Linked DNA regions of Homo sapiens. The protein of the gene in region 2 interacts with the protein of the main gene of each other region in a biochemical or structural test. Each region holds a gene or a part of one and is shown on either strand. Other genes may lie near its edges. The genes, in order: LIMK2, EFNB2 and DLG1.

The links.
Region 1: the proteins of EFNB2 (region 2) and LIMK2 interact in a test that uses a peptide from one of them, tested with the Homo sapiens proteins (one large-scale study listed by IntAct).
Region 3: the proteins of EFNB2 (region 2) and DLG1 interact in a test that uses a peptide from one of them, tested with the Homo sapiens proteins (one large-scale study listed by IntAct).

The regions. Positions count from the first base shown.
Region 1 is NC_000022.11:31,260,734-31,264,387, reverse strand, and holds part of LIMK2 (LIM domain kinase 2), read right to left. Parts: intron 2,255-3,654; coding exon 2,149-2,254; intron 1,794-2,148; coding exon 1,597-1,793; intron 1-1,596. UniProt on the Homo sapiens protein: Serine/threonine-protein kinase that plays an essential role in the regulation of actin filament dynamics. Acts downstream of several Rho family GTPase signal transduction pathways.
Region 2 is NC_000013.11:106,511,553-106,515,206, forward strand, and holds part of EFNB2 (ephrin-B2 isoform 1 precursor), read right to left. Parts: intron 1,261-3,654; coding exon 977-1,260; intron 1-976. UniProt on the Homo sapiens protein: Cell surface transmembrane ligand for Eph receptors, a family of receptor tyrosine kinases which are crucial for migration, repulsion and adhesion during neuronal, vascular and epithelial development.
Region 3 is NC_000003.12:197,288,587-197,292,240, forward strand, and holds part of DLG1 (disks large homolog 1), read right to left. Parts: intron 1-3,654. UniProt on the Homo sapiens protein: Essential multidomain scaffolding protein required for normal development. Recruits channels, receptors and signaling molecules to discrete plasma membrane domains in polarized cells.

The DNA.
Region 1 (3,654 bases), on a different chromosome or scaffold from region 2:
CTTGGGCTACCCAGAGAGGACTGACGCTGGATGGCTCTTGGCTTGTCCCGACCTACAGGTTTACTTACCCTTGTCCTTTTGCTCTGCCTCCTGCTGACCATGCCCACCAGAGCACACAAGGCTAGCTGCCCCCCTCCTCTGCATGGTGGCTCTACAGATACCTGGCCACTCCCAAATCTTCCCTTTTCCAGGCCATGGATTTCTAGCTCTTCCCTGCCCTCTGTTGCCCTGCCTCCCACTAATTTCATCATACTGACCAAGGCCAAGAGGCAATGGGAGTGAGGGCAGCACTTTAATGAGAGGGCACTGTTTCCAACACATGCCAGCTGAGAGGGCTCTAACTTACTCAGTTTGTTTGGTGAGGAGAGTGGATAAAAAAAAACAAACTTTTTTTTTTGGAGACAAGGTCTCACTCTGTTGCCCAAGCTGTAGTACAGTGGTGTGATCAAGGCTCACTGCAGTCTTGAACTCCTGGGCTCAGGCAATCCTCCTCCTCAGCCTCTTGAGTAGCTGGGATTACAGGCATGTGCCACCATGCCCAGTTAAGTTTTTTATTCTTTGTAGAGACAGGAATGTGGCCCAGGCTGCTCCTGAACTCCTGGCCTCAAGCAATCCTCCGGCCTTGGCCTCCCAAAGTGCTGGGATTACAGGTGTGAGCCACAGTGCCCTGCCCATCTAATTAAAAACAATTATTATTATTATTTTTTTTTTGTAGAGACAGTGTCTCACTATGTTGCTCAGGCTGGTCTCAAACTCCTGTGTTCAAGCCATCCTCCGACCTAGGCCTCCCAGAGTGTTGGGATTACAGGCATGAGCCACGGTGCCTGGCCAAGAACCTGATTCTTAGTGATACTAAGAATGTGTCACGTTTACTGAACACTGTCCCTATGGCAGCACTATACAACTTTATGTCCTTTTCCACATTTAATCCTTACATAATTGGTGAGACAGCCACCTTTATCTTACCATCTTATGTCACAGATGCAGAAACAGGCTCAGAGAGATGAAGTGATTTGTGAAGGGAGGAGCTCAGCCTGAAGCCCCAGTAGGGTATCAGTATTTCTGCCTGGGAGCCAGTGCTCTTGACTTCTTTTCTGTAAGTCTCCCTACTTGGGGCTTCCACTCAAGGCAACTTCTCCTTCCCCATGGACCTGGCAGAATCTGGGGTTTGGGGGTTGTTGGTCCCTCAAGTCTAAAAAAAACGTTCATTCATCTTTTGCTTTATTGTTTTCAAAGTCTTTCTACACAATTTATTCAATCCTATCTGTGCCCCTACTCCAGGCTCTGAGCTCCATGCTTTCTCCATAGGCCATGTTGCCCTTCAGGGTTTAGCATCACTGCCTCCTGTCCAGCTTAGGAGTTCAGTGGACAGAGACTGACTCTCAGGTTTCTAAGGAAACCTGGCAGACAGCTGGGTCCGCACAGGCTCTGGCTGTAAACTGTGATCCCCACAGGGGCAGCTGGGTCAGCACAATCCTCATAGTCTGTCCCTGGCCAGCTGGTTCCTTTCCTAACTCTGCAGGCTTCTGAAAGCCAGCTCAGCTTCATCCGAGAGACAGACATAGGACAGAACAGAGCCAGGGTGGGAGGTGGCACCTTAGGGAACGTCTCCTCAGTGTCCCCTCCAGATTCTCCTTGGTGTCCAGGGTGCTGAGGGCGTGGGGGTGTCCGGCATTCTGCATGTGAGGAGCGAGCCGGGCCTCCAGCCGCAGCTGGTCCAGGCGTTGGGAGACGGGGTCATGTTCAATCAACAGCTGAAGTGTCTGGCTCGTCTGGCTAATTGCATCCTCCACCTGTGGCCAAGAGCAGTATAAAGCTCCCACAGGCTGCCCCATCCCAGGCCACCCATGGCCAACCCAGATGACTCAGGCACAGTGTGGCCAGTGCTCAACTTGTCTAATGGTGGCCTTTAGCTGCCAGTGGCCTCACAGTGCCCTCTGCCTGGCATCCTGTCAGCTCTCCCGTCCATCAACCATCCCTGCTACCCTGGGAACCTGTTACGCTGAAATAGGTCACCAGTGGTCACAGGCTCAATGCTAAGACAAAGAGATGGGCTGGGGGTAGGAAAAGGTAAAGGCTACAGCCTGATTTCTCAGAGGATCTGTTCCATGTCCCACCCTCACAAGACAGATTAGACACACACTCTACCTCCTCCACTCGAAGTGTGCGGACGGGGGTCCCATTGATCTCCAGGATGCGGTCCCCAGGGTGGATGGCGTTTCGATTGTTGGGACTGATGTGCATCCGGTTGACCCTGGGCCAGACAAGAGTTGAGGCAGGGTAAAGATGTCCTAAAAACCTGCTTGACCAATTCTGCTTGTGCAGGGAAGGTTTACCAGGTCCCAGGCCACCAGTGGCCCCTAAGGGGCCCAGGATACCCACACAGAAAGGCAACACCTTTTCCAGGATGCCCCATCTCAGTGAAGGGAATTGCCACTCACCCTGTGGCCTAAGCCAGAAACTTGAACATCATCTTCCCAATCTGGAGTTCCCTCATCTCTCCTACTCCCATCTCTAAGAACTCTGCCTTCTTTCCATCATTGTAGTTATTCACATCTCTTACCTGGATCACGGTAATAGCTTCTATTTTTTTTTTAAACTTTGTTTTTAATTTTTATTTGAGATGGCATCTTACTCTGTCATCCAGGCTGGAGTGCAGTGGCATGATCTGGGCTCACTGCAACCTCCACCTCCCAGGCTCAAGCAATTCTCATGCCTCAGCCTCCTGAGTAACTGGGATTACAGGCGCGCACCACCATACCCAGCTAATTTTTTTGTACTTTTTGTAGAGATGGGGTTTTGCCATGTTGGCCAGGCTAATCCCAAACTCTTTTTTTTTTTTGAGATGGAGTCTCGCTCTGTCGCTCAGGCTGGAGTGCAGTGGCGTGATCTCTGCTCACAGCAAGCTCCGCCTCCTAGGTTCATGCCATTCTCCTGCCTCAGCCTCCCGAGTAGCTGGGACTACAGGCGTCCGCCACCATGCCCGGCTAATTTTTGTACTTTTAGTAGAGACGGGGTTTCATTGTGTTAGCCAGGATGGTCTTGATCTCCTGACCTTGTGATCCGCCCACCTCGGCCTCCCAAAGTGCTGGGATTACAGGCGTGAGCCACTGCGCCTGGCCTAATCCCAAACTCTTGACCTCAAGCAATCTGCCCACCTTGGCCTCCCAAAGTGCTGGCATTACAGGCGTGAGCCACTATGTCTACGTCTGGACTTTTCTTTTAATTAAGAAAAACAGAGACGGGGTCTTGCTATGTTGGCCAGGTTGGTCTTCAACTCCTGGCCTCAAGCAATCCTCCCACCTCAGCCTCCCAAAGTGCTGAGATTACAGGCATGAACCACCATGCCCAGCCTACAATAGCTTCCTAACTAGTCTCTATACCTTTAGGCTTTCCCCTCTCCAATCCAACCTCCATACCAGTGATCCTTCTAAAATGTTAACTTGGTCACAACACCTTGCTGCTTAAACTCTCAATGGATCTGCTGGATTTTCATAATCCAGGCCCTCTATACTTAACAGCCCCTTTTCTGGCCACACTCAACCTACATCAGACATGATTAAGACTCCTACTTTTGGAGAAATGCTTCTCCCTCTGCCCTGAACACAATTCCCTCTCCTCTTCATCTAATAAGGTTGTAGAACAGACCTTAGC
Region 2 (3,654 bases):
TCTCCTACCTAAAGTTTTAGAGTCCACCTTGGGGCAAATAATAAACCAGTGGCAGATAGCAGTTCCCTAATAAACTGAAGTCTATGGTAACCAAGCCACTGGAAAATTCAACCCAATTAATTATGAGTATAATTTTAAACCAAAGAAATTAAGAAAAAAGACTTCATTGCTTGAATGACGCGAACAGCTGTCTGAGTCACCTAGACTTTAACACCACCTGGGGCCCTGGGAATGACGCTGACGAGAGATCTGCACATAGTAGGCGTGGGCTCCAAATGTGCTCATCAGCTGACTTCACATCCTCACAAGTCAGCCTCAGATATGACCCAAGGGATACGTACCATCTCTTCTTGAAACAGCGTGTCAAATTATATATATGTATGCAAAAAAGAGTAATGTACTAAGCAAACCAAGTTTCGTCTTTTTCTTCTGAATCTGGTTTTAATGTGACCTGTCATCCCCATCTTTCGAATTTATGAGCTCCATCTTCTCTAGACTGTTAACTTCTTGAGGAAAACATGCTATTTTACCACCTTTCACTGCTGAATCCCTAGCCCTTAAGCACAGTCTCTGGCACAGAATAAATACGAAATGAATGAGTGAATGAATGGATGGATGGGTGAAGAGAAAAGGCAATGCACAAGATTTACCTATCAAAATCCACCAATGGTCCTTAAAAATGGTTTTGTCAGTAGAGATGCTGAATATATTCATATAATACATTTATTTCAATACTATTAAGAATTCTAGTGTTTTTTTTTCTCTTTGGGTATGTATACTTAATGAATACTGGTAGCACAGGGTCCCAAATTCAATGAAGTTTTCTTTGAAAAAAAAAAAGGGGGGGGGGACAATTTTTCCACATAGATTTTCATCAAATTATTTGTCACAATAATTTTAAGGAAACAAAAAATTGATACAAACCTATATAGCTTATCTTAATTTCTATAAAATAAATGAATAAAATTATACTTACATATAATGTAATAATCTTTGTTCTTCTGAAATTCTAGACCCCAGAGGTTAGGGCTGAATTCTTGAAACTTGATGGTGAATTTGATATCTTGGTCTGGTTTGGCACAGTTGAGGAGAGGGGTATTTTCCTTCTTAATAGTGCATCTGTCTGCTTGGTCTTTATCAACCATATAAACTTTATAATATTCATACTGGCCAACAGTTTTAGAGTCCACTTTGGGGCAAATAATATCCAATTTGTCTCCTATCTGTGGGTATAGTACCAGTCCTTGTCCAGGTAGAAATCTAAAAGCATAAGAAAAAAAAGCCATTGAGTTGATAAAAATTAACAGTATTAATGACAGTTACAAGATAGCCAGGCAATGCCCATAATCCCAAACTACACATTTTCAGATTCACACTTTAATTTATCAAAAGTCTCTTACTTCAGATCAATATGGGATGAATGTATTTTGGAATTAAGCTTTAAAAGAAAAAGGAAAGACAGAAAGAAACCACTTTCCTTACTCTAAGCTGTAGGATCAGGCTACCTGCTGACATTTCTTTACCACCCCCTCGCTTGTAATATTTCAGTACTCCTTTGTGTAACTTTACCATAACTCTTCCTCCGTGGTGAGTCAGATCTCCCACATGTTTGTTATTTTTTAACCATTGGCAGCTTTAGTTTATTGGGCATGCCACAGAGAAAGCTCGTCAATTGGAGGGAACAGTGGATCCACTAATACTTTGTTGTCCTGTTAGTTTCCCTGTGCTGTTGATGTTAATTAACAGACAAGTTTCATCAAGAATGTTTCAAATTACTTATCATAATTAGTCAGTCACTGATCAAACAATGGGTTTTTTATTACACTGAACAAAAGCAATGTCTTACAAATGCGTAAAAGATAACCAGAAATAATTAGTTGTGGTATTGATTCAGCTGCAAAATGAAGTGTCCTCTACTTGCAAGGACAACTACTGTCCCTGCCCTATAAATCTTTTTTTTTCTTCCCTTGAGATGTATTTGCTCCAATTAATTCTCAGAAGCAAATCTTTAGAACTAAGACTACTGATACAATATCCCCTTAATGCTTATAGCTGAAAGCCTCCCTCCTCCCTTTCCTCTTTCTTGGTAGCCATGTTCCTGAATGATCTTTCTTAATGGGGAGTTTCTCTGAAAAACTGAAACAAGAACTTCCTAATGAACATCCTTCTACAAGTGCTAACACTAACAACACACTTAGAAATCTCAGCTCGTTCGTAAGCAGCCAAGCCTGCAGGCTCATTAAAATATTAAAGCCTAAGAACAAAGAATCGCCTCTGAATCCTTCCAATCCAACCCTTTCTTTAACCAGAGACGCCCACCAGCCATGATGACTACAGGGTCATAATTCACTAAGAGATAAAGCAAGGATGATAGGGCACCCCCAATTTCAAACCCATACCAAGGGAATAGTTTATGATTTATGCTAATGAATGGTATTAATTTTCTGAAAAGTGCATGAGTGTGGTTATGAAGCAGCACAAAACATAACAGAAATCATACTATGGATTCATATTAAAAACCCACACTCTTTATTGGGAAGAAAAATGTATGTGGCTGTTACCTCTTTCTTGGGAATGTGTTACTGTACAACCCCCAAAAGAGAAGGATGGTCCCTTTTTTTTTAACTGAGCTCCTTTAGCAAGGATATATGACATTCATTCATTCAAAAAAACTTTCTGTGAAACAGAACTCAAAACGAATTTTTATAACAATGATATATTTAAAACAACCATGTGTGTACTGTTGAAGAATTCTCTAGAACTTTTGACAAATGCAAATCACAGTGGGAGCCTCTCTGTGGTATCCCCTCAACCTTGTGAATGGCAATGTGTTCTCTGTAGACAATTTCATCTTCTTTATGGACAAAACACAATTCAGTTTCTCAAGTAACAGACTGAATCAGAATGTTTGGGATGAGGCTAATTTCTTTATCTCCCCCAGCCCCTCCAACACACACACAGTAATTCTGATGTGCTGCTGAGGTTAAAAACCTCAGGCAAGATGCCGGGCAGTAAGTACAAACTAAATTCCATAAACATTAAATTGATCATCTTCCTGACATTTCCTTTTTCTCCTGTCTTATTCCTTGACCTTTTTAGGACATCTTTAAGGTTTACAAACACCAGGAGTCAATTCCTGCCTAGGGTTTCTCATACACTCCAAACCTTTTCTATCCTTAATCTGCTCCTTTTGTAGCCTGCACAGACAGCACTATATAAGGGTTAGCTACTATTAGGGGAAGTATTCCTAAATTACAAGCCCTGGGGGCATCCCAGGCTTCAGAGATTAGGATCCTTAACCAAACCAGATGTACCCATTTCCTCAACCATTCATTCAGCTCTTTTAAGAAAATGCATTACACCCCCTCCCAAGCTGTACATCTCTGCAAATCTTAAAACTCTCCCACATTACACCCTATGTCTCAAGTTTGGCTCACTAAGCTCCTTCTTCATTCAAAATGCTCCCAAGATCCTGTTTCCTTCATGAGGATTTTTTTTTTCCTGCTTAACTAAAGATTCACAGGAGGTTTCCTCCCAGGCCATGCAAGTCACTCCTCTTGACTCTCATCACTCACCGTCTCAGCGACAGGTCTTGCTGGTGCTGATGCGGTGAGGTCGAGAACATGGGACGCAGGGGTCGGTGTGGCTTTGGGG
Region 3 (3,654 bases), on a different chromosome or scaffold from region 2:
GGCACATGCCTGTAATCCCAGCTATTCAGGAGGCTGAGGCAGGAGAATCGCTTGAACCTAGGAGGCGGAGGTTGTGGTGAGCTGAGATCAAGCCATTGCACTCCAGCCTGGGCAACAAGAGTGAAACTGTCTCAAAAAAAAAAAAAAAAAAAAAAAAATACATACATACATACATACATACATACATAAAATGGTAGAAATCTACTGACATGGAAAGACATTTGTCGATAAACTTTAGAAGATAAAAACAATATGTATAGTACAGAGAAATCATACTATTCACACTTATACAAATACAACTGCAGTATATCTCCCCTGCAAAAAAGGGCAACTCTGTCTACCCAATAAGTGACTGTCACAAATAAAAAAATGAGAAGGAAGAAGATTCTTCCTTTAGGTAGTCTGAGTTTTCATGTGCCTCTCAAAATGTGAGCTTCTTGCTATATCTCACTGTGCTGAGTGTGATTCTATAATTACGTGTTTTTAGTACAAGAAGTCAAACAAGCCAGTTGCTTCGTCTAGGGCTCAAGTGAAGAAATCATTCCTTTCCACTAGAGGAAAAAAAACAATTGTGCTGTAATTAACAAGAGCTAGTGTTAAATTTCTGAAGGCTTTTCAGGGATAATTTTAACTAGATGAGGTTTTTCACCTTACATGCTGATTTTAAGTATCAATTCTCACAAGGGAAATAACTGTTTTACTTAGAAGTTTGTTTTGCAAAATGAAGGTGGGGGGTGGCGTGTATACACGCGCATACACACACACACACACACACACACACAAATAACATTCCAGGATATTCATCCCATGGATGAAGTAGGAGGTAACCTCTGGTGTGAATATTTTCTTATGGTATTTTACATATAATAATCTGATCTCAAATGTTTTATATAGAACATGCATCATTTTTATAATAAATTTATTTTGGAGGGTTACAGGAAAGGCAACTAGAAAGCTGAAGAACACTGAAATATAACCCTACCATTTCAGAGGAAAAAAATTCTATCAGTTCATTTACTAAAAGCAAGTATGATTATTCAGACAATACCCAATTGAGTAATCAAAATTAACATCATCAGTGAAGGGCAGATGACATACTAAGATAATACCACAATAGTCAAATCTACTCAAGCACAAATACTCTTTCTTCTAAACCAATGTTCATTTAAAAAGTCATTTTTGACCCCTAGAAGAAAGAATATCCTATAAAATTTAAAAGTTTGTACTATTGTTTCACACACTAAAGAAAGGAAAGATGTCAAGCTAGTAGGCAAAAATAAATCACTTGAATACTTTAGATACTATTAGACTAAGAATCATACATGACTCACAAGCATATTCCATAAAACAAGGTGTGTACTAAAAGGAACCAGAGCTTCTCAGAGAAATGGCTGATTCCAGGGCTGGGGCAGGAGAGGTACAAGATAAACCTGGAACATCTTGTTATGCCAAAAATTAAGAAAGTGCTCCAAAAAATGATGAGGGCATCTCATAAGGACACAAGCTTGAAAGGGCCCCCACTGGATCACTCAGAGCACAAATGTCATTAAGGATGGTAATAAATGATAAGTCATTGAAAAAAAAACAGGTATCTGCAAGTTCATGAAAGACACGGGAAAAAAAGAAGGAAGGCTCTTGTTTAGAATAAAATGCAAAGTGTTAACTGGTAAACCTAGGAGTGTTACTGTTAGAAATCTTACTTTTCAACAACCATATTATAAACCGGTTCAAGAATCATCAATGGATGCTAAATATGGGTGGAAATTTTGCTAAGGAGTAGGATATGTACATGGTGTTAAAGTGTCTCCCCCACATATTGCCTATAAGCCACAAGGGGTAAAAAACAATGACTATAGGATACAGAATTCAGACAACACCCAACTAGGTAATCAAAATCAGTATCATCAACAAAGAGCAGATGACTCTGTGTACCTCTGGATGTACAGAATCCTAAGCCAGGAATACAAAACCTGAATCTAATCACAAGGAAACATCAGACAAACCCAAAATGAGAAAATTATATTAAAAAAAAGTAAGAGTGGAAGGAACTGCGTTTTTCAAAATCATCAATCTCAGCTGGGCGCAGTGGCTCACACCTGTAATCCCAGAACTTTGCTCAGGAGTTCGAGACCAGCCTGGGCAACACCTGTCTCTAGAAAAAGTTAGCCAGGCGTGGGGGCTCACACCTGTAGTCCCAGCTACTCAGGAGCCTGAGGCAGGAGGATTGCTTGAGCCTGGGAAGCAGAGGTTGCAGTAAGCCACCACTGCACTCCAGCCTGGGTGGCAGAGCAAGACCCTGTCTCCAAATAGTAAAAAAAAAAAAAAAAAAAAAAAAGTCAGTCTCACACAAGACAAAGAAAAGCTGTGGAAATGTGCCCTAAGTAAAGAGACGTGACAACTAACGGTAATATCTGGTCCAAGTCTGGATTCTGCACTGAGGAAAAATATGACCCTGCAGAGAGGAAATGGCTTAGAAGAAATATTTAGATGCCTTTACAACTCTGATTCCAAGGTTCTAAAGAGAATTCAGCCAGATTCAACATAATCAAAACACTGCTTCAGAGCAGTAGTAAGCAAACTATGAGCAAAGAACTCAATCTAATTGAATCAAAACCATCAAGTGAGAAGTTACTAAAATTCTCCATTTCAGGAAGTTTCAGCCAACGATGTGATCCATATCCTGTTTTCCTTACTCAAATCTAGCCTACAAAGTTACACACACACACACACACACACACACACACACACACACACAGTTAGCAAGAGACTAAAATGTAACATCAGTGGGACTAATATAATGCAAAAGAAATTTAAGAAATTTTGACATTTTACCACTATAGCTGGAAGATCTCAAACCCTGATTACTAAACACTGTTTTCAAAATGTGTGATTTCCATCATCATAAACATAATGCACCATTATAAATATTTTCCTTCAAAGTGACAATCATTTAAAGATTACTAACCCTAAAGATTGCTATCTGTCTTAAGCATGCTTGTCATTTAGTATTCTTTATCAGATTAAAATACTCAGTTCTGAAAAACAACGATAAAGAATATCCCAATGGTTGACGGTGAGAAGTATCTATGGATTCAGATTAGTTGAGTTCAATTTCTGGCTCCGCAATTTAGCATCTGAGGGTCCAAGGGCAAGATTGGTCATTTCTCAGTGCTTCAGTTTTCCAGTCTATAAAACAGTACAAACACCTCATACAGGTGAATGTACACCTCACAGGATTACAATGACTAAATGATATATTTGTATTAGCACATAGAAAGTGCTCAATAAATGTTGGTTATTATGTTTTACATACACTTGAAGAGGAGTCATATACTCACACTTATTAGGATGGCTATTATCAAAAAAAGAAAGGAAAAAAATTAAGTATCGGCAAGGATGTGGAGAAACTGGAAATCCTGTGTGCTGCTGGTGAGACTGTAAAATGCTGCAATCACTATGGAAAACATTATGGTGGGCCCTCAAAAAATTAAAAATGTAACTGCCGTATGATCCCACAATCCTATTTCTGGGTAAATATCCAAAAGAACTGAAAGCAGGGTCTTGAAGAAATATTTGCACACTCACATTCCTAACAGCATTATTCACAACAGCCAGGAGGAGGAAGCAACCCAACTGTCCATCAATGGATGGCTA